Linked DNA regions of Homo sapiens. Changing the gene in region 4 together with the main gene of any one other region gives a genetic interaction. Each region holds a gene or a part of one and is shown on either strand. Other genes may lie near its edges. The genes, in order: TBC1D3G, POLD1, ILF2, RIT1, DDAH1, PRPF38B and DDX21.

What was found.
Region 1: changes in RIT1 (region 4) and TBC1D3G together harm fitness more than expected from each alone (negative genetic interaction), as found in Homo sapiens cells (one large-scale study listed by BioGRID).
Region 2: changes in RIT1 (region 4) and POLD1 together harm fitness more than expected from each alone (negative genetic interaction), as found in Homo sapiens cells (one large-scale study listed by BioGRID).
Region 3: changes in RIT1 (region 4) and ILF2 together harm fitness more than expected from each alone (negative genetic interaction), as found in Homo sapiens cells (one large-scale study listed by BioGRID).
Region 5: changes in RIT1 (region 4) and DDAH1 together harm fitness more than expected from each alone (negative genetic interaction), as found in Homo sapiens cells (one large-scale study listed by BioGRID).
Region 6: changes in RIT1 (region 4) and PRPF38B together harm fitness more than expected from each alone (negative genetic interaction), as found in Homo sapiens cells (one large-scale study listed by BioGRID).
Region 7: changes in RIT1 (region 4) and DDX21 together harm fitness more than expected from each alone (negative genetic interaction), as found in Homo sapiens cells (one large-scale study listed by BioGRID).

The regions. Positions count from the first base shown.
Region 1 is NC_000017.11:36,322,384-36,326,683, forward strand, and holds the start of TBC1D3G (TBC1 domain family member 3G), read left to right. Parts: upstream 1-1,500; 5' UTR 1,501-1,599; intron 1,600-3,027; 5' UTR 3,028-3,028; coding exon 3,029-3,100; intron 3,101-3,262; coding exon 3,263-3,348; intron 3,349-4,300. UniProt on the Homo sapiens protein: Acts as a GTPase activating protein for RAB5. Does not act on RAB4 or RAB11.
Region 2 is NC_000019.10:50,387,347-50,390,846, reverse strand, and holds part of POLD1 (DNA polymerase delta catalytic subunit), read right to left. Parts: intron 3,188-3,500; exon of another isoform or gene 3,043-3,187; intron 1-3,042. UniProt on the Homo sapiens protein: As the catalytic component of the trimeric (Pol-delta3 complex) and tetrameric DNA polymerase delta complexes (Pol-delta4 complex), plays a crucial role in high fidelity genome replication, including in lagging strand synthesis, and repair.
Region 3 is NC_000001.11:153,668,194-153,672,241, reverse strand, and holds the start of ILF2 (interleukin enhancer-binding factor 2), read left to right. Parts: upstream 1-1,248; 5' UTR 1,249-1,319; coding exon 1,320-1,324; intron 1,325-2,011; coding exon 2,012-2,071; intron 2,072-2,363; coding exon 2,364-2,406; intron 2,407-3,665; exon of another isoform or gene 3,666-3,684; coding exon 3,685-3,789; intron 3,790-4,048. UniProt on the Homo sapiens protein: Chromatin-interacting protein that forms a stable heterodimer with interleukin enhancer-binding factor 3/ILF3 and plays a role in several biological processes including transcription, innate immunity or cell growth.
Region 4 is NC_000001.11:155,897,308-155,901,349, forward strand, and holds the end of RIT1 (GTP-binding protein Rit1), read right to left. Parts: intron 3,312-4,042; coding exon 3,081-3,311; 3' UTR 501-3,080; downstream 1-500.
Region 5 is NC_000001.11:85,325,660-85,329,159, reverse strand, and holds part of DDAH1 (N(G),N(G)-dimethylarginine dimethylaminohydrolase 1), read left to right. Parts: intron 1-3,500. UniProt on the Homo sapiens protein: Hydrolyzes N(G),N(G)-dimethyl-L-arginine (ADMA) and N(G)-monomethyl-L-arginine (MMA) which act as inhibitors of NOS. Has therefore a role in the regulation of nitric oxide generation.
Region 6 is NC_000001.11:108,695,310-108,698,809, forward strand, and holds part of PRPF38B (pre-mRNA-splicing factor 38B), read left to right. Parts: intron 1-392; coding exon 393-461; exon of another isoform or gene 462-471; intron 472-733; coding exon 734-885; intron 886-967; coding exon 968-1,028; coding exon of another isoform or gene 1,029-1,042; intron 1,043-2,251; exon of another isoform or gene 2,252-2,500; coding exon of another isoform or gene 2,501-2,540; exon of another isoform or gene 2,541-2,548; coding exon of another isoform or gene 2,549-2,554; exon of another isoform or gene 2,555-2,708; intron 2,709-3,294; coding exon 3,295-3,500. UniProt on the Homo sapiens protein: May be required for pre-mRNA splicing.
Region 7 is NC_000010.11:68,980,170-68,982,868, forward strand, and holds part of DDX21 (nucleolar RNA helicase 2), read left to right. Parts: intron 1-1,367; coding exon 1,368-1,412; intron 1,413-2,373; coding exon 2,374-2,643; 3' UTR 2,644-2,699.

The DNA.
Region 1 (4,300 bases), on a different chromosome or scaffold from region 4:
CCATCCTACTGCAGGCCTGTGTGGCTGCTAGAGAGGCCAGGCTCCTTTCCGCACCCCGAGGCTGCCCGATATGCTTTCTGCATCCTGTAGAAAACTGACCCACTATTCTCATACTGGTGCAACTTCTTCCATTACCTCAAAACTGGACAACGTGAACTTGTTTCTTGTCTCTTCTTGCTAGGGCTGTCACTGGGACAGTCCGAGATGGGGGGGTGGGGGGAGACAATGGATGAATGGATGGATGAATGGACAGTAGTCCAGGGAGATGTCCCTGTGTGTCCTGAACTGGGACCTTCCTCCAATGAGAAGCCTTCCTGAGTGAGTTTATACAGTCATCCCTTGGTATCCATGGATTAGTTCTAGGGTCCCCGGGGATGCCAAAATCCATGGATCCTCAAGTCTCTGACATAACATGGCCTAGTATTTACATATCAGCTATGCACATCCTCCCGTAGACATTAGACCATCTCTGGATTATTCATGATGTGTAATACAATGCAGATGCTACATAAATGGTCGTGATACTGGATTCTTTAGGGAATAATGACAAGAACAAACTCTGCACATGTTCAATAGAAACATAACCGTCCAATTTATTTTCTGAATATTTTCCATCTGCTGTTGCTGAATCTACAGATGCAGAGCTCCTGGATACGAGAGCCAAGTGTGCTTTGAGAGTAGGGTGGGTGAGGTTGCTAATGAGTACAGGGGAGCAGGTGTTGATCAGGAGGACCCTGCACTGGGGCATCTGGACGTCCTGCCTCAGGACTTGAGACTCCAGTTGGATGGCACAGGCAGACTCAGCCCAGGTCAAAGCCGTCCCCTTGAAGTTTCTTTTTATCCCAAGCTCTTTCTGGCCCCTGGAATTTGGCATCCCCTAGGCCCTGTGTGGAAGGACAGATGAACCAGGTTTTAGATAACATGTCTAGAAGAGTGAGCCCCTACTGTGTGCCCGGCACTTTCCCCACAGGATCCTCTAGCTAGAATATCCAAGGGTCATGGAGAGAAATACCCAGTTAAAATATCAGAAATGAAAAAGCGATACCATTAGAGACACTAAAAAGACCATTAGGTAATAGTACTAGCTTTTGTATTCTGAGATCCAACAGCAGCAGTCACTTCCCTCCACCGCTATGTGTATCCCAGGACCACCCTGGGCAGGGAGGGCTGAGGTTAGGGAGCAGCCATGGATGCTCTGATGCTGGCCCTGGGCCTCGGGGGTGACAGTGATGAGGAACTGGGTGCACACATGAGTGGGGCAGCCGGGCCTGGCCAGAGAAGCAGCACACACGTGCACAGATGTGTTTACCCACATACACATGTGCACGCACGTGCACAAACACATTGCAGGCAGGCATGTTGACGCCTCAGGCAGCGGAGGACCCTGACTCTGGGTGCTGCTGACCCGGGCAAGGCCCCACTGTGATTCGTGCCATGACCTCAGAATGTCACTGGTGCTTAGCACCTATCTGCTCTCTGGTCTGCCTCAGTGGTCTACAGCAGTTACACACAGGCAGTGGTATCTGTGAGCAGCTCTGTGGACTCAAAGGTTTTCTCCCTGAGAGGCATGACCCAGGCCAGCTGATTCATCAGAATCAGGTGAGCGTGACCTGCTCTCTTCCCTCCAGGCGGACTTGGGGGCAGTGGCTACGGTGCGGGCGGTGTTGGCCTCTGTGGGGCAGCTACCGAGGAGGGTCATCCCTGAGCACTCACCAGGCGCCCGTTCTACACTGCCCGTGTAGACGATTGGCTCTTTCGTCTCCATGGTGGCTTCGTAGAGTGGGTGCTGTTCCCAAATGTCCCCATTCGACAGATGAGACGTCTGGGGTCAGAGAGGCAGTAACCGGCCTGGGAATCCGGACATGACCCTGAGTTTTGCTCTCAGCCCTGCCGTGTGCTGTGCTGGAATTCAGGCCTGAACCCTGTGACCTCCCTGCCCTAGATCCCAAATCTGCCCAGGTTTCCCATCCCGATGGGGCAGAGCCTGGTCCTGGCAGAGCCACTGGTATAGAGCCACTGGTACAGATCCACTGACGGTCCTCAGAACACCTCTGTGCCCTAAGCTGGGTCCTGATGGTCGCTGTGGGCCCCACTGAACACACATGGTCCCTTGTCCGGGGGAGCCTGCTGCCCTTGGGCAGCTGTGGAAAATGAAGGAGCCCTGGAGGGCTGGCTGAGGGGAGACTATCTTCCCTTGTGTTCAAAGGGGTCCGGGCACTAGGGTTCTCCCCAGGTATTTCTTGCTCTGCGTGGTCCTCTTGAGGCCTCGCCCTCCTTTTGCCTCGAGTATTCCCAGGAGGGACGGTCCATCCAGCTGTTCTCCAGGACCAAGGACCCACTGTTCTTCCTCAGTGACCCAGGAAAATGAAGCCTCCTCCTGTTGGGACGGCTCAGAATGGTGGACTCCACAGTCCCTCCGCGAGAGACGTGGTTTCCATGCGTACAATAGATCTTCCTCATCCCCCAAACCCAACACCCTCCTGCTCAACAGGCGTTATTCCTAAAGTGGCTTCACTGTTCAGACTGAAGAGCCACGGTAGCCAAAGTGATGAGCGGAGTAGAACCGAGCAGTCGGGAGAGATCTTGTTCCCTGTAGGAAACTGGGCATCGCTGAGGCCCTGAGCATCCCAGGAGGCCGATTGCACAGAGACCTCTGGTCGCTGACCCCAGTCTGCCTCCACATCCCTGGAATAGCCCATCATGGGCCCTTCACCCTTGGCAGGTGGAAACCATTCAACCTGCTGGGGCCGGTGTGTCCCCATTTCATGGCATTGGGGGACAACAGGATTCTCTGTCTAGGTCCCACTGTACTCAAGTCCTTGGGAAGATGCCCACCCCTGCTTGGGACTTGAGACTCCAGAGACTGGAGCAGCTGTGGGCCACTGGGTCTGGCCCCTTTTTCCCTGGGGGCGGCGGTGGAATGGGGGTTACGCAGCCAGCCAGCATCTGGGAGCCCGGCGAGAGCGGTTCAGGTGTTCTCCGAAGCCGCCGCGTACAGTGTGACCTTTAGACAATTCTGTCTCACAGGATGGACGTGGTAGAGGTCGCGGGCAGTTGGTGGGCACAAGAGCGAGAGGACATCATTATGAAATACGAAAAGGTACAAGTCGGTCTGCTTCTTGGAGGGAGGCCTCTTCCAGTGTGCCCTGGTCAAAGGGTCCTGGGCTCCCTAGGAGCACAGGGCAGGGACGGGTGGCCAATGCCCCCAGGCCCTTGCACCCTTTACCTTGGACCCCTCACCAAGGCTCCCTCTGGGCTACAGGGACACCGAGCTGGGCTGCCAGAGGACAAGGGGCCTAAGCCTTTTCGAAGCTACAACAACAACGTCGATCATTTGGGGATTGTACAGTGAGTCCTCTGCACTCCCCTCACCCCTAAAGCACCTGTCTCAGCTCAGGGATGGGTTTGCTTTTAGAAAGGCCTTTCTGACGCAGGACATGTCTCACCAGGTCGGGTCAACCTCCTTTCCAGGGACAGAACTCCTCCCTGACTCCCCTGCAGGTCCAGCCCGAGGTTGTTAGGCCAGAGGTGTGGGGCCCATCTAGGGAGCCGGTGGGAATGGAGACTGGGCTAGGTCAGGCCCCTGGGCGCTCAGCAGTTCTGTCGGCAAGTGAGCACAAGAGGAGCGGGGCAGCCTGAGGGTCTGGCCCTGTCTACTTGGAGACAACCCCGGTGAGATGCAAGGGTTATGGCCACAGGGTGAGGGGACGCCTGGCCCAGCCTCAGGGCTGTTGTCCAGCAGGTCTCTGAGGGCCCACCTGCCCCTGTTCTCCCCCATTCCCCTAGAGCTACAGCCCTCACTGTCCCGTGAGGGGAAAAGGCATGGTGACAATGGGGGCTGTAGCCCTAGGAGAACGGGGGAGAAGATGGGCAGGGCCCCGTTCTGGGCATCTCACGGTGAGGCCAGGGAGGCAGCAGGGCTCGCGGCTAAAGACCTGGGTCTGGTGCTGGGAAGGGATCTGGGGCCAGGTAAGAGGAGCCCAGCCAGGAGCCCATCCCTCAGGGATCACAGGATGGAGAGACAGAGGATCCCTGGGGAGGTAGGGCGGGAGGGAGCTGACGAGCGGTGCCACTTCTGAAACGCAGGGTGTGTGGCTCGGGTGCAGGGAGAGGCAGGTGGATGCTGGGAGGTCAGAACCTGCAAGGGCCTTGGGGCTGTCAAGTGGGGTGGGCCCCTGGTGCAGCCAGAGTACACCGGGCAGGTCTCAGGGCAGGCTCCCTTGACCCTGGCGGGGGGATGTGGTCACTCCCTGAGGGACTCCTGTCAGGGCCCGGTCGCCCACCCTGGGCGGCCCCCATC
Region 2 (3,500 bases), on a different chromosome or scaffold from region 4:
TAAATGGATTAAGGGCGGTGCAAGATGTGCTTTGTTAAACAGATGCTTGAAGGCAGCATGCTCCTTAAGAGTCATCACCACTCCCTAATCTCAAGTACCCAGGGACACAAACACTGCGGAAGGCCGCAGGGCCCTCTGCCTAGGAAAACCAGAGACTTTTGTTCACTTGTTTATCTGCTGACCTTCCCTCCACTATTGTCCTATGACCCTGCCAAATCCCCCTCTCCAAGAAACACCCAAGAATGATCAATAAATACTAAAAAAAAAAAAAAAATAGTTCTCAAGAATAACTGTAGAATGTGCTAGGAATGCAATATCCTGAGATAAGGAGGGACTGGCTGAAACAGCCCAGGCTCTGTTCCAGTCCCTCCTAGAAACAGGATGTCCTTCATCATTTTAGCCCAACATGTCATGTTGCCTCCAGAATATAAAACCCAAGATGGTCTGCTTTCCAGGTACAAATGGGGTACACACAAATGAGACTCCATCCTCCCGGGGCAACCTTCCTGAGTCTCGGGAGATTGGCTCACAATGAATCCTATGCTTCGGTTTTCCCTTGTTGCCTAGCTGTAAATAATAAATTTACTTCATGTAACTTGAAAAAAAAAAAAGAAAAGAAAAGAAAAAAAGAAATTATTGGCCAGGCGCAGTGGCTCACACCTGTAATCCCAACACTATGAGAGGCTGAGGTGGGTGGATTACCTGAGGTCAAGAGTTTGAGACCAGCCTGGCCAACATGGTGAAACCCTGTCTCTACTAAAAATATAAAAATTAGCTGGGCGTGGTGCCAGGCGCCTGTAATCCTAGCTACTCGGGAGGCTGAGGCAGGAGAATTGATTGAACCTGGGAGGTGGAGGTTGCAGTGAGCCAAGATCGCACCACTGCACTCCAGCCTGGGTGACAATGAGGCTCTGTTTCAAAAAAGAAAAAAAAAACAAAACAAAAAACAAAAAAAAAAACAGGCTGGACATGGTGGCTCACGCCTGTAATCCTAGCACTTTGGGAGCCCAAGGCGGGCGGATCACCTGAGGTCAGGGGTTCGAGACCAGCCTGGCCAAAATGAAACCCCGTCTCTACAAAAAATACAAAAAAATTAGCCGGGCGTGGTGGTGCATGCCTGTAATTCCAGCTATTCGGGAGGCTGAGGCAAGAGAATGGCTTGAACCCAGGAGGCAGAGGTTGCAGTGAGCCGAGATAGTGCCACTGCACTCCAGCCTGGGCGATAGAGCAAGACTCAGTCTTGGAAAAAAAAAAAAAATAAGAAATTATTTATAGCCTTGAAGAATATTACAGGGACACGTGGCAGATCTAAATAAGAATCGTCTATTCAATAACGTCACTGTCTCATGTTAAACTGCATGATGATGACAATGACACTGTAGTTCTGCAGGCGGACATCCCTGTTCTTAAGAGCTGACTGCTGGAGGCCAGGTACGGTGGCTCACGGCTGTAATCCCAGGACATTTGGAGGCCGAGGCAGGGGGATTGCTTGAACCCAGGAGTTTGAGATCAGCCTAGGCAACATGGTGACACCCTGTCTCTATAAACAATATAAAAATTAGCAGGGTGTGGTGGCACACACCTTTAGTCCCAGCTACTCGAGAGGCTGAGGATCAGCTGAGCCTGGGGAGGTCGAGGCTGCAGTGAGCTGTGACCACCCCACTGCACTACAACCTGCATGACAGAGTAAAATACTGTACCAAAAAAAAAAAAAGAGGCCAGGTGCGGTGGCTCATGCCTGTAATCCCAGCACTCTGGGAGGCAGAGGCACGTAGATCATAAGGTCAGGAGTTCAAGAGCAGCCTGGCAAAGATGGTGAAACCCCATCTTTACTAAAAATACAAAAATTAGCCAGATGTGGTGGTGCGCGCCTATAGTCCCAGCTACTCAGGAAGCTGCAATAGGAGAATCGCTTGAACCTGGGAGGCAGAGGTTGCAGTGAGCCAAGGTCGCACCACTGTACTCCAGCCTGGGTGACAGAGCAAGACTCCGTCTCAAAAAAAAAAAAAAAAAAAAAAAAAGAGTTAACTGCTGGAGTTTTCAGAGGTGAAGTATCATGATGACCACAACTTTCAAATAGTTCAGCCAAAAAAAGGACAAAAGGTACAGGTATATGCATGTGCTTGGATAAAGCATAAAGCAAATGAGGTGTCATGCCAACAGCCAGTGAATCTAGGCAAAGGGCCATGGCTGTTCACTGTACTCAATTTGTACCTTCTCTGCAGGTTTGAAACTTTTCAAAATATTAAGGGGGAAATATATAAAATGAAAATAGTAACAAATTTACAAGGTGGGCAGAAGAGTATGTAGAAATCTTTTTGCTTTTAATGCAGGGAGTATGTAGACGTCTTTTTTATTGTAATGCAGGGAGTATGTAGACGTCTTTTTTATTGTAATGCAGGGCATATGTATAAATCTATTTGCTTTTAATGCATCATTCTATAAGGAGAGCTAAGAAACTGGTTTCCTGGGGGACAGGGTAGAAGACTTCATTTGCTAACTGCTTTATTGAGCTATAATTCACATACTATACAATTCACCCATTTAAAGTATATATAGTTCAATGGTATTTAGTATGTTCAGAGTTAGGCAACCATCACCACAGTCAATTTTAGAACTCTCTCATCACCCCAAAAAGCCTAAATCCTTTAGCTCTCTCCCTGCATTCAGCCCATCTGCCCCCACCCCTGGCAGCCACTCATCTAACTTTCTGTCTCCATGGATCTGCCTATTCTGGGCATTTCCTATAAATGGGATCTTGGAATATGCAGCCTCTTGTGTCTGGCTGCTTTCTCTGAATGTGTTCATCGCTCATGTGTGTGGCGGCCTTTCGTCAGTGCTGTGTCCCTTTTTTGCTGAGTACTTTTCCGCTGTATGGCTAGAACACGTCTGACGTATCCCTTCATCAGTGGATGGACATTAGGGTTGCTTCCACCTTTTGTGAGTGGTGCAGCCGTGAGCGTGTGCAGGGGGTTTTGTGTGAGGAAGACTTTGACTGCGTTTGTGCTCTTTGGGTGACAACCGCGTACATGTGTGACTTACAGGAAGAAGCAAGCGTCGTTAGCGGCTCTGGCTTCGGGTTGTGCAAGTAGCCAGAGAGGGACAGGGAGTGATGATCTGCGAGGAGAGACCCGGGTGGGACAGAGGAAGCGCAGGGGCTTGTGGGAGCCCAGAGTCAGTGCTGAAGCTGGAGGAGGAAGGAAGGAGCTGACTGGCTGCCCTTGGTCAGTTGGCTGTGGCTGCGGGGGTGCGGTGGGAGGGACGGTGTCACCAGGGGCAAAACCTGGGCTCTTGTTAGTGGAGGCACAGCAGCATTAGGAAGGAAAGGCCCCTGTGTGTCCCCTCTCATTGGCCCTGGCACAGGATGAGAGCTTGGCAAACACTGTCCTCTGCCCCTCTCACGACCCTTCGGTAGCAAGCACTTAACAGAGATTCAGCAACAAAATGACACCACGTGCTCGCTGCAGGCCAGACACCAGTTTTCTCGATGAGTGAGACAC
Region 3 (4,048 bases), 2.2 Mb from region 4:
CAAACCTGAAGCCATTGATTCAAGAAGCTCAACAAACCTCAAGTAAGATTTTTTTTTTTTTAAACGGAGTCTCCCTCTATCGCCCAGGCTGGGGTGCAGTGGCGCCATCTCAGCTCACTGCAACCTCCGCCTCCCGGATTCAAGAGATTCTCCTGCCTCAGCCTCCTGAGTAACTGGAATTACAGGCGCCCGCCAGCACGCCGGCTAATTTTTGTATTTTTAGTAGAGACGGAGTTTCACCATGTTGGCCAGGCTGATCTCGAACTCCTGACCTCGGGTGATCCACCCGTCTCGGCCTCCCACAGTGCTGGGTGGCCACAAGCCACCGCACTCGGTCCGCTTTTTGTTTGCTTGTTTTTTAAAAATTAATAATATTTATTTTAATCTGGATGGTGGTTACGTGGCCAGAATACGTTTAGACTTAAGATGTTTACGTTCTGCTGTAGTAAATTAAATATCGAAAAAGTACTTATGGAAGGGAGGTAGGTGAGGGATAAAAGTCTACAAGTTGGGTTCAGTGTATACTGCTCGGGTGATGAGTGCACCAAAATCTCACAAATCACCACTAAAGAATTTATGTAACCAAGCTGGGCGCTGTGGCTCACGCCGGTAATCCCAGCACTTTCGGAAGCTGAGGCGGGTGGATCACCTGTTTCCATGGACATGGAAAACCATGTTTTCCACACTAATTCAATCAATATACTCCTCTCCTATCTAAAACCTGTTTCTCCTGCTTCGAGTTTGTAGACGTGCAGTGTTCATAGTTGCCTAAACTCCCTTTTCCCCATCAACTTCAACTGCTAGTGGCAAAAATAGCTGATATTGGTTGCATTTTTGAGGTAGGAAAATTGGCAAGATATTTTCCTTCACTAAAGAAACGTAGATTACGTATGCCGTACAGGGCAATGAAAAAACTCCGATAGCAGAGGATGGTTTCGATCCATCGACCTCTGGGTTATGGGCCCAGCACGCTTCCGCTGCGCCACTCTGCTATCTAGAACTAAAATTTCTCATGATTGTTATAGAACACTACGTAGTCGTTGTCCTGACTTCTTTAGTGCCACCTAATGTCTGATCAAAAATTCGTCATTACTATAGAACCAGTTCTTATTGGCTAGTTCCTGACACAGTAGGCGTTTTTTATTGGTTCATAAGCCCGGTTTGACAAAGTAAGCCAATAGGCATAAGCGATGGGGTAAGGCGGGAGCCAATCGCACCGGGTTTTATTGGGACACGCCGGCAAGACGCCTCTTCAGTTGTCTGCTACTCAGAGGAAGGGGCGGTTGGTGCGGCCTCCATTGTTCGTGTTTTAAGGCGCCATGAGGTAAGTGGGTCGAAGCGGTCGAAAGGTTTCAGGTATTCGACGGAAAACTTTGTGAACGTGGGCCGAAAGAAGTCGGAGTATCAGAAAGGGCCATGTATCCGGGGGCTGGCCAAAAACCTGAGAACTCCTGGTCTAGGATAGTGGGAGAGATGGAGGCCGGTAGAGGCGGGGAAACTTGGGCCCGGGATGGGGTTCGGGCCCAGGAGTGGGGAGGGGGGTTCGACACCTTTGTCTCTGAAGGGTTGCGATGAGGGGGTGTCCTCAAGCCCCTGGAGGAGCTCCCCACCTTTCCCCCGCCCCCGTCATCCGGGCTGAGAATGCTGGAGCGAGCCGCATTCATCCTCAGTGCGAAGGCCTTGACATTAGGACACGCCCGATAAATGTGTACCTTAGTGAAGAAATGAGCAATCTTTAGCCTCCGAAGTATTAGGATTCGTGTGGCCCAGGATTATGGGTTATTAAGTGTAGGGCTCACTGAGCCCCATCATTACTTGATGGGGGTTGGATTAACTTAGAGGAGGTTATGGGGGTGTAACTGGGCACCATTTGGAATGGGGACAAGTGTAAGTGTGAGTGGGGTCTCTTGCCTACCGTTGGGAGGTTCCGAGGGATGAAAGTAGCCAACCTAAGATGATATGGCCGGTGGGTATTCCTTCAATGAGGTCAAAATAAAATCTGCATTTCTAGGGGTGACAGAGGCCGTGGTCGTGGTGGGCGCTTTGGTTCCAGAGGAGGCCCAGGAGGAGGGTGAGTACCAGCTTTTAGCATCTCTGCACTTGGTTGTTAGTTTCTGCTTGTCATCTAAATAGGAGTTTTAGAGTAGACTAATGTCACTTGGTTTTGCGAGAGCCAACTGTGGTCTTTTCCTGCACTCCTGTTAAATGAATTTGGCCCCACTATGCTAAGAATGATTCTTTCCCTCCCCGGAGACTTTGTCACTCATTCTGAGGACTGACATGTTTTCAAAATTGTTGGCGTGTTATTTACATCTCGCTTGATTCCTACCTAGGGAATAATTTGGCTGTTTTTCATGTTTTAGGTTCAGGCCCTTTGTACCACATATCCCATTTGACTTCTATTTGGTGAGTACCTTGGGTTAATGATACACATTTTCTGGTCACTGTTGAAATGGAGCCCAGTATCTCCCAGTTAATGAAGTTAGATGGTGGTTGAAGAGGGCAGACACAGTGCCTCACGCCTGTAATCTCAGCACTTTGGGAGGCCGAGGCAGATGGATTACCTGAAGGTCAGGAGTTTGAGACTAGCCTGGCCAATATGGTGAAACCCCGTCTCTACTAAAAATAAAAAAGTTGGCTGGGCATGTGTCTAATCCCAGCTACTTGGGAGGCTGAAGCAGGAGAATTGCTTGAACCCGGGACGCGGAGGTTGCAGTGAACCAAGATGGCACCACTACAAAAAAAAAAAGATGGTTGAAATAGGGAGGGAAAGTGATTTGTGAAAAGATTTGGGGTTTTGAGTCAACTGTGTGTTGCTTTACATACAGAAACAGTGTAAGCATGGTGGGGAGAATAATTCCTTGGCTACTGTTGGCATTAAACATGATTATAATCTTTGTTCTGAACAAGTAATTGTATTTATGGTATATCTGTTACTATAAAGATAGTGATAGCTTAAATTATGGCTATTCCAGCTTTTATCCTTGTTTGAACTTTTTATTTTTTTTGAGACAGTCTCACTCTGTCACCCAGGCTGGAGTGCAGTGGTGCAATCTTGGCTCACTGCACTGAACCTGGGAGGCAGAGGAATCAGGACCTCTGCCTCCAGGGTTCAAACGATTCTCCTGCCTCAGCCTCCTGAGTAGTTGGGATTACAGGCACCTGCCACCATGCCCAGCTAATTTTTGTATGTCTGTTTAGTAGAGACGGGGTTTCACCATGTTGCCCAGGCTGATCTTGAACTCCTGACCTCAAGTGATCTGCCCACCTCAGCCTCCCACGGTGCTGGGATTACAGGTGTGCGTGACCCACTGTGCCTGGCCTTTGAATAAATTTTTTTTTTTGAGGCAGGGTCTCACTCTGTTGCCCAGGCTGGAGTTGCAATGGCGCGATCTTGGCTCACTGCAACCTCGCTTCCTGTGTTCAAGGGATTCTCTCACCTCAGCCTCCCAAGTAGCTGGGATTACAGGTGTGAGCCACCACGCCCAGCTATCACCTCAGCCTCCCAAGTAGCTGGGATTACAGGTGTGAGCCACCACGCCCAGCTAATTGAACAAATTAAGCAGTAAAAACAAGTGTAGAATTTTCTGTTTTTAACCTTTTTCTGTCGTAGTAATAGAAAAAACAATCTCTCCTGTATATTATCTTCGGCAAATAGAATGTAGTTGTTTACTTCTGGTTTAGTGTGAAATGGCCTTTCCCCGGGTCAAGCCAGCACCTGATGAAACTTCCTTCAGTGAGGCCTTGCTGAAGAGGAATCAGGACCTGGCTCCCAATTCTGCTGAACAGGTATGTTCTTTTGGCTGTCTTCCAGAAATGTCTCTAAAGCAGTTAAAAGTATTGGTAAAGAGTAACTGTTGGTAAGGTTAAGAATGGTGTTAACAGAGCCTGAAATCCACAAAGGGTTTAATTGTTCTCCTTATTTCTCATTGTGGGTGGAGATAGCCAGGTGGATATATAAACAAATTACATATGCATTCTTATTTTTACTGGGGACAAAGAGTTGTTCTCTTCCCATATATTCAAGGCCAGAATGAAGTGTTTTTAA
Region 4 (4,042 bases):
ATACAAAAAATTAGCCAGGTGTGGTGGCGGGCGCCTGTAGTCCCAGCTACTTGGGAGGTTGAGGCAGGAGAATGGCGTGAACCCAGGAGGCGGAGCTTGCCGTGAGCCGAAATCGCGCCACTGTACTCCAGCCTGGGCGACAGAGCGAGATTCTGTCTCAAAAAAAAAAAAAAAAAAAAAATCATTCTTTCACTTTTCATTTAGTGTATTTACTTATAACAACTTTAAGTAACCCTTGATCAGGTAGCAAATGTGCTGTCATTTTCCATATGTGTTTTTCCTGTCTCCTCCCAAGAGGTAATCTCTTCAAATGAAGGGGGATTCCATGGCATGCTCCCTAGCACTTGACATGGGTGTCTTGTTCATGGTGGGCACTCAAATTTTTTGAATTCATATTTTCCAGAATATCACATCTCATGGTTATGTTTTTCTGAAAACAACTCTTTTGCAATGATTCCAAAAACTCTACCCACTGATAGGGAAGCAAAGGAAAGCCCAAGTTGTTTAAAAGTTTTGTATTATGTCATACAAACTGTCTTCACATACAAGTGCATTAAAAAAATTATCCCCCCCTCCTCCTCCCCAAACATCACAGTAGACCAATTCTTGCTAATATATGACAAAGTTAAAACATATGTCCCCTCTGAATTCTAAACAGCTAATTCTAGACACTAACATCTGGATCTTATAATTTACCGGTCTGGTATGGACATGAACAGTTCCAGTGCCTTTCAACTTATCCCTGAATTTTTCTCTTCTCAAAGTTCTAGGCAGTAATTTTAATGCCCTCAAATTAGATAAAGCTGATTACTTAGAGCTTATAAATTAGCTACACTTTATGACACTAAGAATAGAGCTATGACTTATGCATATCATACCTGTCAAGCTACCTAGCACCACGAATAGAACTAATATTAATGGATGGACTAATACAAGGATCTAATATATGACAGTGATAGTCTTAAAAACACCGATTTGTTATTTTCCTTATATATAATCCAAATTCCTTTCTATCCTTCTGGCAATGTTTCTACTGCCTGACTACCTTAAATAACTATATAGTGTCAATTTCTTGCTTGGGCCAGGTGGTGGCTCATGCCTGTAATCCCAGCATATTGGGAGGATTGCTTGAGCCTAGGAGTTCGAGATCAGCCTGGGCAACATAGTGAAACCTCATCTCTATTTAAAAAAAAAAAAAAAAAAAAAAAAAAATATATATATATATATATATATATATCTCTTAATGTTAATAACAATTCCCTAGGTCACTAGTAATAAGAAGCTATGGGCTTTAAACTTAAAAGGTGCTAAACCAGTTTAAATGTAAAACATTCTCATAATAGAATTGCACTGTATTTCTTTTCTACTTTGATGCTTTTCCAAAGTGCTATAGTTCCTGTGAGATTTGTGTCCTGCACAGAATCAAATGCTAGGTCTTTCACTTTTGGATGGCTGAGTACCATAAAACATGATTTATTTGGTAACAAAAATGTTTCCAGGAGTTTAAAAAGGGACCACTACTCAGAGCTAAAAAAGTTCTAACAGTCACTTTTTAAAAAAGCTAGTTTATCATTTGTTTATAAAGAAAAACACAACTCTGTCCTACTTCCTCTAATAAAAATGGAAAATATTAAGATGAGCTGTGTGCTTATAAAGAGGTGCTACACAAGTCATCTTACGTTTCTAGTCAACACAAACATTGCTTCAGTGACACTTAATATTCAATACATGATGCATTACTCTTAGCATTTTTGCATTTACTCTCCGCATATAACAAGGTCAGATATCAAAACAGTCCTGATCTTAGACAACTCACTACCAATATTTAAAGCTGTTTCCTCCTAGGACTACAGTTCCTAAACTATGCACAGGGAGCAAAGTGGTATTCCCTTAGGATAAACTTGGTCAAGGCTCAGATAACCCTGAGATGAACTTAGCAAAGTCCTTGTAAAGAAATCTTCAGATGGGAAACTCCACCTATGTGAATTTTAAAGCTTTAAGACTGACCCATTCAACAGAAATAGCAGATTTTCTCAGAGCACTGAGTCTAGTGATTGTCCACGTCAAGGAGGCACACACACAATTTTACCCACACCCCTGATGTCTCTTCTGTATGGAAAATGCAATCAGTGATGAAGGGCCGAAAAAACATCTTGCCAGCTGTAGCTCTTTTACAGAGCACAAAGTGGGAGGAAGCAATGAATATAAATGTGTTGGTGTGTGCGTCTGTGGGGAAAAAATAAACCTGTACAAGGCAATGGCTGATCCAACTATGAATTTTGATTAAACACGTTTAGTAATACAGTTATGATTCCCAAAATGTCTACCTTTGAAGGTAAAAAAAAAAAGAAAACCCTGAAATGAAGAGTAAAATAAGGTTCCCAGGAGAAACCTTCATCACATTTTATGCTTCTGGCTGTTCTCACTTATCCCGGTGAATTTGGGCCAAATGTGTACTTCTTAGAAAAGCGAAGCTTGTACTGAGAATACTGTTCTGAACCTACCTTTTTAAGTCCCTGCAAACATATAGCCCAACTTTCCCAAATCTCACCACTCCATAGTCTGCAACAGGTGTCAGCCTCACAGGTATCTGCTGAAATTTGGCACTGATCTCATTAGCCCCAATTTCCCTACATGATTTTTGTTCTGTCTCTAGGAAGCATAGTGTGAATAGAAGAGACTGAGGTCTTTCTCTGGGATAGTCCCAGGAAATTGAAATTAAAGGATAATGTGGAGTGCAGAGCCAAAAACTTCCCTTGTGAACTTAGTCAAACACACATGGTATACATATTCTCCTGGGTATAAACAAATTTACATTAATTAATAGCGCAACAGAACCCAAAACATTGGTAGAACAAATTCTAATGTGACAATTTAAAAGCAGACAGTGCTCCACTGGGTTAATAAATCATACTTAACTAAGAGACAATACTTTAAATACCACATCATTAAAAACTCCTAGTAGGCATGTCCCTCTTATCAGTTAAGTGAAAGAGCAAGCACCATACTCAGTACTGCAGGTTACTGGACTGCTTTGATACAGCACTGCAGTTCACAGATAAACACTTCACATCTTCTCTTCAAGTTACTGAATCTTTCTTCTTCCGGAATGGTGATTTTAGCCTCTTCCATACACTGTTTTTGGGCTTAGATTTTTTCTCCATGGCCAGTACTGCCTCCTTTTCTTTCCTACGTATCTCCCGTACAAGGGCATGGAAAACATCATCAATATAGTAGCGGTATGCAGCAGATGTCTCAAAAAAGGGACAGCTGAATTCTCGGGCCAAGGCCAATCCTTCTTCCTTGGTGACCTTTAAGGGCAAAATGTGAGAAAAGATAACAGTGAAAAACAATTAAATTGTCCAAAAACCTGAATGCACCACCACCTTAACACAAAGAAAGCTTCTCAATTCTGGAGGTGTTCAAGCATACAGCACTAATTTTTGTAATTTTAGGCTAGATTACTTCTAAGGTTTCTTATTCTGCCTTCAAATGATATGATTCTATTTCTAGTCTACTTTTTTTTTTGAGACAGAGTTGCGTTCTTGTTGCCCAGATTGGAGTGCAATGGCATGATTGTGGCTCACAACCTCGGCCTCCCGGGTTCAAGTGATTCTCCTGCCTCAGCCTCCTGAGTAGCTGAGATTACAGGCATGCGCCACCACACCTGGCTAATTTTGTATTTTTAGTAGAGACGGGGTTTCTCCATGTTGGTCAGGCTGGTTGTAAACTCCTGACCTCAGGTGATCTGCCCACCTCGGCCTCCCAAAGTACTGGGATTACAGGCGTCGGCCACTGTGCCCGGTCTCTAGTCTATTTTTAAGATACTTTTTGGAACAGGGAATAGTTTTAGATATCAAATACACAATCTTAATTTTCCCCATACTTTTTATTTTAAGAAAGATAAATAGGCTGGGCTTGGTGGCTCACACCTGTAATTCCAGAACTTTGGGAGGCTAAGGTAGGAGGATTGCTTGAGCCCAGGAACTTGAGACCAAGCTGGGCAATATGGTGAGACCCTACTTTTACAAAATTTTTAAAA
Region 5 (3,500 bases), about 71 Mb from region 4:
GGAATGTATGACATTCCATGCTTTTGCTTTGTAGTCACCTCCGGACATGCATGAGTCACACTGAGAGGTGGGGAATTTGCCCAGACCGCTAGATCCAGTGAATAAAGTCAGGCCTAAGAGATGTAGTCTTGCCATGTTTCTTTCTCTTTCAATTCATCTGGTACTAAGAGACATGGGTGATTTATTTATCTGTGGGTAAAGAGTACAATGAAGCTTCTGCAGATCACAAATTAAAATGGAAAGCCAACTGGCAGTTATCTGGTGATTATGAGTGGTGGGAGCACTTAGCCTGAATGTGTGGGCCAAAATATGCCACACACAGTTTTCCCAATTGCTTAGAAAAGTAAGTCAATGTGAGTAATAGATTTTCTAGATTTTGTTTTGTTTGTGTCTAGGTTGACCAGGTAGCAGTGGTTGTGTATACATGTTCTAAGGATCTCTCTGAGGTCCTCAAACCACTGGGGTCCTACTTAGTAAACCTCTGGCTCAGAGAACTGCCTCCCCAGTTGTCTGGAAGAAATTCTGAACTTCTTGGGTAAACTAGGTCCAATTCATGTGACAGGATGACCGTCCAGTTCTGACTGCAAACATGAGCAGACTGGCCATCTTGGTCCACCCTCAACAGCACATAATAAACAGAGATTTAGACATAGTGGAATCCCATTCCCTGCACCTGGAAAAAAGCACGTTTGTGAGACTGACCAAAAGCTATTGTCTAGAAGTTTCACAAATCCTAACTGCCACCTTGCATATCGAGGCAGCCCCACTCTACTATGAAGAAGTCAATCTGCCCATTGGGTTTATGGACTATTTTACTAAATTGGGGTCACAACCTGACAGAGGCTTATGTGTTCGGTTTGATATACACAAAAGTTTTTCTTTTCTTTCTTTCTGTGAATGCCCTTAGGTGCCACATACTCTGCAGGTAATTCCAGATCCAACCCCCTGTTGTCTTACTTTGTCATCCAGAGTCATTTGAGTTAGGACCACAGAGTATAGTGCCCTTCTGTATGGCTTTGAAAAACAGACAAACCTTGGCCTTGTTGATTTTAGCCATGTTTTTTCACATTAAAAATAATGAGTTGTATTTCTGTTTCTGGACATAGACCATACCTTGTTTCTCTGAGGGAATTCAATTGTTTACCCATGTGATTGACCACACAGTTCATCACAGTGCCCTCCTGAGGTTCTCTGTAGCGTTTAAAAAGGTGAAAGGAATGAAGAAATGAACCAGTTAGTGCAAACATATTTTGGTCACCTGCTATATGTCAAGTGACTTGCAAGAAACAAAGAGGGAAGTGAACCGACTTTTATTACACATTTAATATCTGCTAGAAGCTTGTGCTAAGCATTTTATGTACATTATCTGTTTTGGGGTTTTTTTTAAATAATCTTCAGAGTTACCCTGTGGAGGATAGGTATAGCATTCCCATCCCATTTTACTGCTGAGGGAATTGAGGCTCACAGGGCATATGTGACTTTCCCAAAGTCACACAATTAGTGTGTGGCTGAGCAAGGCTTCAGACCCAGACCTTTCTGACTCTGAAGCCCATGCTCTGTCCACCTCATTATGCCTGGACCTGCATTCAAGGAGGTAGCAGTCTGGTTGAAGAGAGCAAAACTGCACAAAAACTCATAGTAAAATTTGTCCTTATTCCAAAAACTTTGGGAACTTTGTAGCAATTATCTCTCTAGGGGATCTAGGTAGAAGGGATGCTAAGCCTGCAACACTACTAGATTACATGTTAACGTAGGCCTTAGAAAGAAGGAAGCTGAAGAAGTAATTGTGAGAATATGGTAGGTCTAGTCTTTTATGGTTTTTAAGACTAAGGATTAGACTCCAAGACAGATTATCTGTGGCTCAGGCTGGAGTGCAGTGGCACTATCTCGGCTGGTGGCAACCTCTATGATCTTCCCACCTCAGCCTCCTGAGGAGGTGACTACAGGTGTGTGCCACCACACCCAGCTAATTTTTTTGTAGAGACAGGGTTTCGCCATGTTGCCCAGGCTGGTCTCAAACTCCCGGGCTCAGGCGGTCTTCATTTGTTCCCTTGCACACAATAATAAATGGAAGCTGCTATTATTGTGTTTTGGAAGCAGCCAAAAAGAAAATCTGCATAAGAAGAACTAAATTGCAATTCGTAACAAAAGAGCTACTTGGGTCTGTTTTTTTATTCTCTCAAGCGTCTTCATATTATTTCTGGGCATATCCATTTTATAAAGAGGGCTAAATTGAATATGTTGTTAATTTTCTTAGAAAAGTTAATCTTTAGGAGTGTCTTTAACTTCTTAATTGCCCACATGTTGGATTAGATCTAAGGTTTCTAATCAGGGCTGTAAAGAAAGACCCACTCCATAGGTGAGCCCCTCTATGGGCCTATCCCTTCAAGAACAATTTAAATTCAAAAGTGCAAGAGAGATGTCCAGTTAAGTCCTTTACCTATACCAGACGGTAGCAGGTCATAACAGGATTACATACAAGAAAAGAATTAATGGTACTGCCAGAGAATGAATAATAAGTATCAAGTGAATGTGAAAAAGTAGGTGTTATGTAGTTTGTAGGAGGTAGTTTCCTGCTGCAGAAGTTGAGAAAGAGCAAAGTGAGATGATTAAGAAACGTTTTGAGTTGCACAGATCTGGGTTTGAATCTACCTATGTGACCTAAAGCAAGTTATTTGACCTCTCTCAGTGCAGTTTCTTCATCTGTAAAATAGAAGTTTGAGATTAGATAATAAATGTAAAATGTTTGGCATGGTGCCCTGCTAGTTCTTATTGTAATATAATTATCTATTTTTCTGTCAGTTTCCTCCACTAAACTGTAATCTTGGAAAACTGGGTCTGTGACCTGTTCATCTGTATGTCTCAGCCTTTCATACAGTGCATAAGCTCATCCCCATTCCTGATGTTTCATTCCATGTGAAGGGTATTCCATTATGGGATTGCTCTTGGCCTCTCTCCACCCTTGACATATTCCACACTAGAAGTGAATGATTTACCTGACTGGTGAGTCAGGAAGGGCTTACTATGTGCCACTCTTAGGAATGAATTTTCTACAGGAAGCATGCTGTCTCTCTTCTGCTTTTCATACCATAAATCTTACTATCCAGTGCCCCCATGACTGAGTGGGCATGTCTGCCTAGTAATATGAAGCACATTTCCATACAAACACTGAAAAGTAAAAGTAAATGGGACCATAAAGGTAGATTAGAACCAGATTGTGGAAAAGATCATGTTATACCTTCCTAGCATGATATTTCAGCAGATTCCTTAAAACTGTATGGATATTGATAAAGAGTAGAAAGAGTCTACATGACTAAACCCCAAATAATATTTGTTTTTGTGGGTTTTTAATTTGGATATTCTTGTTGTTAGGGGGAGGAGTGTTGTTTTTTGATAGTTTTGATTATGTTGAGGAGGTAAGGATGAGGTATCAATATTTTAAATTTTGTGCAGAGTTCATTTTTGTGTTGTTTTTAAAGTTATTTTATGCTAGGATACTA
Region 6 (3,500 bases), about 47 Mb from region 4:
TTAAAGGAAAATGTTAAGCAACCCATAAGTTAAATTGTCAAATATTATCAAAGTTAAAATATTACCAAATAGTTTTTGCAACCAAGTGAGACTATAGAAATTTTCTGACTCCCAGATGTAGATATCAGCTCTTTATAAAGCTAGTTGAGTGGGATTTCTCCTCTGCAAAGCTATTAAGGTTTTGTTAAACCCTAGTAGCTTTATGGGTGCTGTCTAAATGTCTAAGCAGTTTTTCCAAAAATGATTTACACACTTAATATCAGTAAACATATACTTAATGCCAAAATAATTTTGGAAGAGCTGCTCTATTATGGACTTGGGTTTACTTTTATCAGGCTTTTAAACAAATTCAAAGTATGAATGTTTGTTGTGTTCCTCTTTTCTATTTTCAGGTCACGCACGTTGAACCATGGGAGAAAGGAAGCAGGAAAACAGCGGGCCAGACAGGGATGTGCGGAGGGGTAAGTAGAAGTACGTGCATTTTTCAGTTTTTCTGTGTCTAATAACTAAGTTTATATTTAGAGAACTAGAGGCCTGTCAATTATACACTTGAGTGACAATTTTTTTAATCCAAATTCAAGTGTTCAGTGAAATAGGGTTAGAAAAGTGTTACTTTTTAATGCTCCTTAGTTCTGGATTATGGATTGTTATTGATACCTAACAGGATTAATCAATTGGTGTTAAGAGTCCGTTAATTATTTTACTACTTTTTCTTAACTCGTTTCCCCTAAAGGTTCGAGGTGTTGGAACAGGAGGAATTGTTTCTACAGCATTTTGCCTGTTATACAAATTATTTACCCTGAAGTTAACTCGAAAGCAAGTGATGGGTCTTATAACACACACAGACTCTCCATATATTAGAGCGCTTGGATTTATGTATATAAGGTGAGCGTACATTTATGTACATTTCCAGTAAATATCTCATTTTAATTCACATGTGTTTAATAATAGTCTTTTGTAATTCTAGATATACACAGCCCCCTACAGATCTGTGGGACTGGTTTGAATCCTTCCTTGATGATGAAGAGGTATGTCAACAAGGGTAATAATTTGTTTTCTTCTGATTACTCTCATATTTTTATTATCTTTTATTTATTGGTGGTTTAATGTCTTCAAGAACTTCCTGTAGTTAAATTTATTTCAGTGAGATACTTTTGGAATTAATGTCCTTTTACTGAGACCTGATGGCTTTTATGTATTTTAGGGTAAATTTCTGAAGTTTTATTTTCTTGTTTTAAAATTGTTTAAATGTGTTTGGTAACTATTGGAAAATTTTCTCTTCTTAATTATGTTCTGTGTATTGTATTGATCCTGAATTGTATAGTTAATAGTGACTTTTCAAGATGGGGCATGCTCAAGATCGAACAGATAATAAAAGATATGCACATAGAATACTAATTGTAGCTTTTTTTTCTTCTGGAACATTTCAGTTCTTCACCCTCTAGCTTCTTCCAAATATCAGTATTCCCACTTGCATAGAAGTGCAGAATTGAAGAGTTGGGTGTTACATAAATAGGCTAAGTGTTTGGATGACTTGTTCAAGGTGACAAAATTTTAATTCCAGTTTTCTGACTCCTAGTACACCACACACACCTTTAAAAAAGAAATTTTTTAAATTGTAATTCGAGTCTCCCTAATTTGAAATCTGAAATACTAAGTTAGATTTAAATCGTGTATGCATTGGCTGGGCGTGGTGGCTCACATTGTAATCCCAACACTTCGAGAGTTCAAGACCAGCCTGAGCAATATAGTGAGACCTCATCTCTACAAAAAAAAGTTTAAAAATTAGCTGAGCATAGAGGTATGCATCTTAGTCCCACCTACTTGGGAGGCTGGGGTGGGAGGATCACTTGAGCCCAGGAGACAGAATTTGCTGTGAGCCAAGATCATTGCCACTGCATTCCAGCCTGGGTAACACAGTAAGACCCTTTCTCAAAACAAAACAAAATATCATATATGCATTAATTTACTTGCATGGTGAAGTCCAACATGTCAAAAATGAAATGATGAGCTGTATTGTCCCTATGTCTACCCAGTCTACTACTTTGTGTTTTAAGGTTCATAAGACTTTTTGAGTGCTATGTGTCAGTAGTCTATTTACAGAGTTCATCCAAAGAATTTATTGAATTAAAGGATGGTTCTAATGGAAATCTATTGTGTTTTGTTATTACATGCACACCTAAAAAAAAAAAAAATCTCATTTAGACATGGAGAATTTTTATTTTTCTCTTTTTTTTTTTTTTTTTTTTTGCCTGTTAACTGAGTTACTTCACTCAGAAGAAGCAAAACGTGTTTTAAATCACAATCTTTAAGGTCTTTTTATCTTTAGATCAGTTTTTCAGACTGAAGTGCTTCTCCCTTCTGTCTTTAAAAAAGCATGTTCCTCTTCATAATTGGTGTTGTATTGGTTTTGTTTCTGGATGCCTCTATTTTATGTTTTTTATTGTGTTTACAAATCTGAGGTCCTCTATTTAAGCTAACTTATTGTTTTCTTCCTTAGATATCTGCAGCGATTATATTTGGAAATACTGTATATCTGAACACTTAAATGTGTGTGAGTGCAAGCAGTTTTACCTTTAGCTCTTGTTTTCCTGTTTAGATAACAAATCTCACTTTCCTTGTGTGCTTGCACTATAGGTTTGGGACTGACAATAGCTGACTAACATGTCCTGAGCTGTGAGAGGGCATAGCAAGAAGGCCTTCATGCGGTAATGACCCTTTTCAGAGACAATGGTCATCATGGATTATGCGTTTCCAATTATTTGTTCATTTATTTATTTTCTACATAACTAAATTAGAAACCTCACTGCTTCATGGCAGTTGGTTTGCTATTGCTTCCAGTTTTATTAGGGCTTCATTTTATATTAGAGCTGTTAAAAGATAACCTTTAGACAGGAATTATCTAAAGTAGATCATATGTAGCTAGGTTATGGTGCAAGGTATATGATGTGTGCAAATATGTCCACAGAAATAAATACATAGTAGGTATGTGGAATGTAAATTTAAGTCAATCGTTCCGCATAGTTTAGAAATGTAAGGGGCTTTTTCATATTGTTAACTGAGTGAGATCAGTTCCCTTTATGCCTGTGAGGCTGCAGGGTTTGTTCTCACTTGCATGCACACACTAAGCCCAAATATTTCTGTTCATTCATTGTCAGATCAGGATATGAAAATAAAATTTTTCTGTTAGTTTTTTTTGTATTGAGATTCCAAAGATGGTAATATTTTTATAATATTCATGTATATATGGAAATACTTTTTTTGACGGCTAGGGTATCTTTTGTGTTTCTGTAGGACCTAGATGTGAAGGCTGGTGGAGGCTGTGTAATGACCATTGGAGAAATGCTACGATCTTTTCTCACAAAACTGGAGTGGTTTTCTACCTTGTTTCCAAGAATTCCAGTTCCAGTTCAAAAGAATATTGATCAACAGATTAAAACCCGACCTAGAAAAATCAAGAAAGATGGGAAGGAAGGTGCTGAGGAAATAGACAGACATGT
Region 7 (2,699 bases), on a different chromosome or scaffold from region 4:
GCAGAGGTTGCGGTGAGCCGAGATCGCGCCATTACACTCCAGCTTGGGCAACAAGAGTGAAACTCCGTCTTAAAAAAAAAATTTTATATATATATAAATCTTTTCCTCCAAAGTAGCTTTTATGACTTTGCTTAGCCTTAAATCTTACCAGGCAATGTTAGGGGCGTCTTTATCTGTACTTCAGAGTCTTTAGGACACATGTTTATGCAGGTAAACTTTTACCTTGCTGTGTTTGCTAATGGAGAGCCTCAAGAACACTCAAAGGCAAAAACTGTTTTCTAATTACCTCTATACCCAGTGAATGCCTGGGATTATACTCTACTTCGTAAATATGTAAGCGAAGATTCCCATGAATGGCAAAATCCACCAGTAGGTGATGATACCTATGTTATGATTGGGTAAATTTTGGGGTGAAAGGGGTGTTCCTTATAAAATATTGCAGTTGAAGACAGCAGGGAGAGGAGTGCCTGTATTAGTTAACACATAGTTTGACTATATTTTTAGACGATTTCCTTGATTGGAGAGGATGGCACTTAATATTAAAGATGGTGTCCTGGCTAGGTGCCATGGCTCACACCTGTAATCTCAGTATTTTGGGAGGCTGAGCTGGGAAGATAATTCTTGAGACCAGCCTGGGTAATGTAGTGAGACCCTGTCTCTACCAAAAAAAAAAAAAAAAAAAAGCCAGATGTAGTGGCATGCACCTGTAGGAATTCAAAGTTACAGTGAGTTGTTAATTGCACCACTGCACTCCAGCCTAGGCAGTAGAGCAAGACCCTATCTTAAGAGGGAAAAAAAAAAGATGGTGTCCTGTATTATTTTTTTCATACTCTTACAGAAGGCTGAATTAAGAAAAACCAGAAAATCAACAATAGAAGATCACTTGTTTTTCTGCTTTTAATTAGGTCATTCTGAATAGCTGGCATTGCTTTTCTGATGGAAGGCAGTATATAGTTTAGACTATAGGTTTTAGAGCCATACAGACTAGATTTTAAATACTTGTGCCATTTAATAGCTGTGGGGCCTTAGACAAGTCAGCTAACCTTTCCAAGCCTGTTTGCTCAGCAATAAAATGTAGCTAATAGCCACTAGGGGGTTAGCACAGTGTAATAGCTAAGACTCTGTCTATAGTTAGAAAGTTCTAAATCATTTGGGGTTCTTTTTTTCAATGTTCCTTGTCTTTCTGCAGTGTACTTTTGGCAGCTATAATGTATTAGCTTTGGTCTAAAGTTCATCTAAAATTATACCTGGTGGTTTTTTTGCTTTATGTTTTTTGTTTTCTTTTTTTTAAAGAATACGTGGTCTTTTAAAGGGAGTATTTTTCATGTGCGTTGGTTGGATTAACTTCCATTTGCTTTGATTTCTAGGGTGTTTGCTTTGATGTACCTACCGCATCAGTAACAGAAATACAGGTATTCTTTTCCCTTAGATTTTAAAGTTAACATACCTAAATTGTAGAATGTTAATTATGAAAATAGAGAATAATAGATTGGGAAACAATAGTTCTGGTTCCTTTAGTAAGAGATAATCGATAATTAAATTTTGGAATATTCCCCCCTAACTTTTTAATTCTGATATTTTTGTAGTTGAACCCACCTGGTTTCTATATTTCCTTTATACAAAGTTGTGAACGATATCCAGCTCTCCCCACCCTTTAACACTTATATATGGTATATAGATTTTGTGTGTGTGTGTGTGTGTGTGCATGTGTGTGTGTGTTTTCAGACAGAGTCTCGCTCTGTCGCCCAGGCTGGAGTGCAGTGGTGCAATCTCGGTTCACTGCTACCTCCGCCTCCCGGGTTCAAGCGATTCTCTTGCCTCAGCTTCCCAAGTAGCTGGGATTATAGGCCCATCACTACCCCCAGCTAATTTTTTGTATTTTTAGTAGAGACGGGGGTTTCGCCATGTTGGCCAGGCTGGTCTCGAACTCCTGACCGCGGGTGATCCACCCACCTCCCAAAGTGCTGGAATTACAGGCATGAGCCACCACGTCCAGCCTACAGGTTTTCATAGACATTTAAAATTGTTACATCTTTATTCAATACTGTGAGAAATGTGTGCTTAATATATTTGTTTTATTACCTTTGGCTGTAGATACCCTGTAGCAATTGAGTTGAATAAATGGTTTAATAACTTAATAAATGAAGTAGTGATGAGGGCTATTTCTCATAATGAAACTGTGTTTTCCCACACTTCAGGGACACTGGCTTTTGGACCATGATGGGTGGCCAGTGTTATTTTTGACCAGTGACTTGTTAAGCACTTATGTTATCACCTTTTCTTTGAAGAAGTGGCAAATATTTTGTTTTTCTCATGCTTTTTAAAAATTGAATACTAATTAAAGCACACAAAAACAAAACATTCTCTCAACAGGAGAAATGGCATGATTCACGACGCTGGCAGCTCTCTGTGGCCACAGAGCAACCAGAACTGGAAGGACCACGGGAAGGATATGGAGGCTTCAGGGGACAGCGGGAAGGCAGTCGAGGCTTCAGGGGACAGCGGGACGGAAACAGAAGATTCAGAGGACAGCGGGAAGGCAGTAGAGGCCCGAGAGGACAGCGATCAGGAGGTGGCAACAAAAGTAACAGATCCCAAAACAAAGGCCAGAAGCGGAGTTTCAGTAAAGCATTTGGTCAATAATTAGAAATAGAAGATTTATATAGCAAAAAGAGAATGATGTTTGGCAATATAGAACT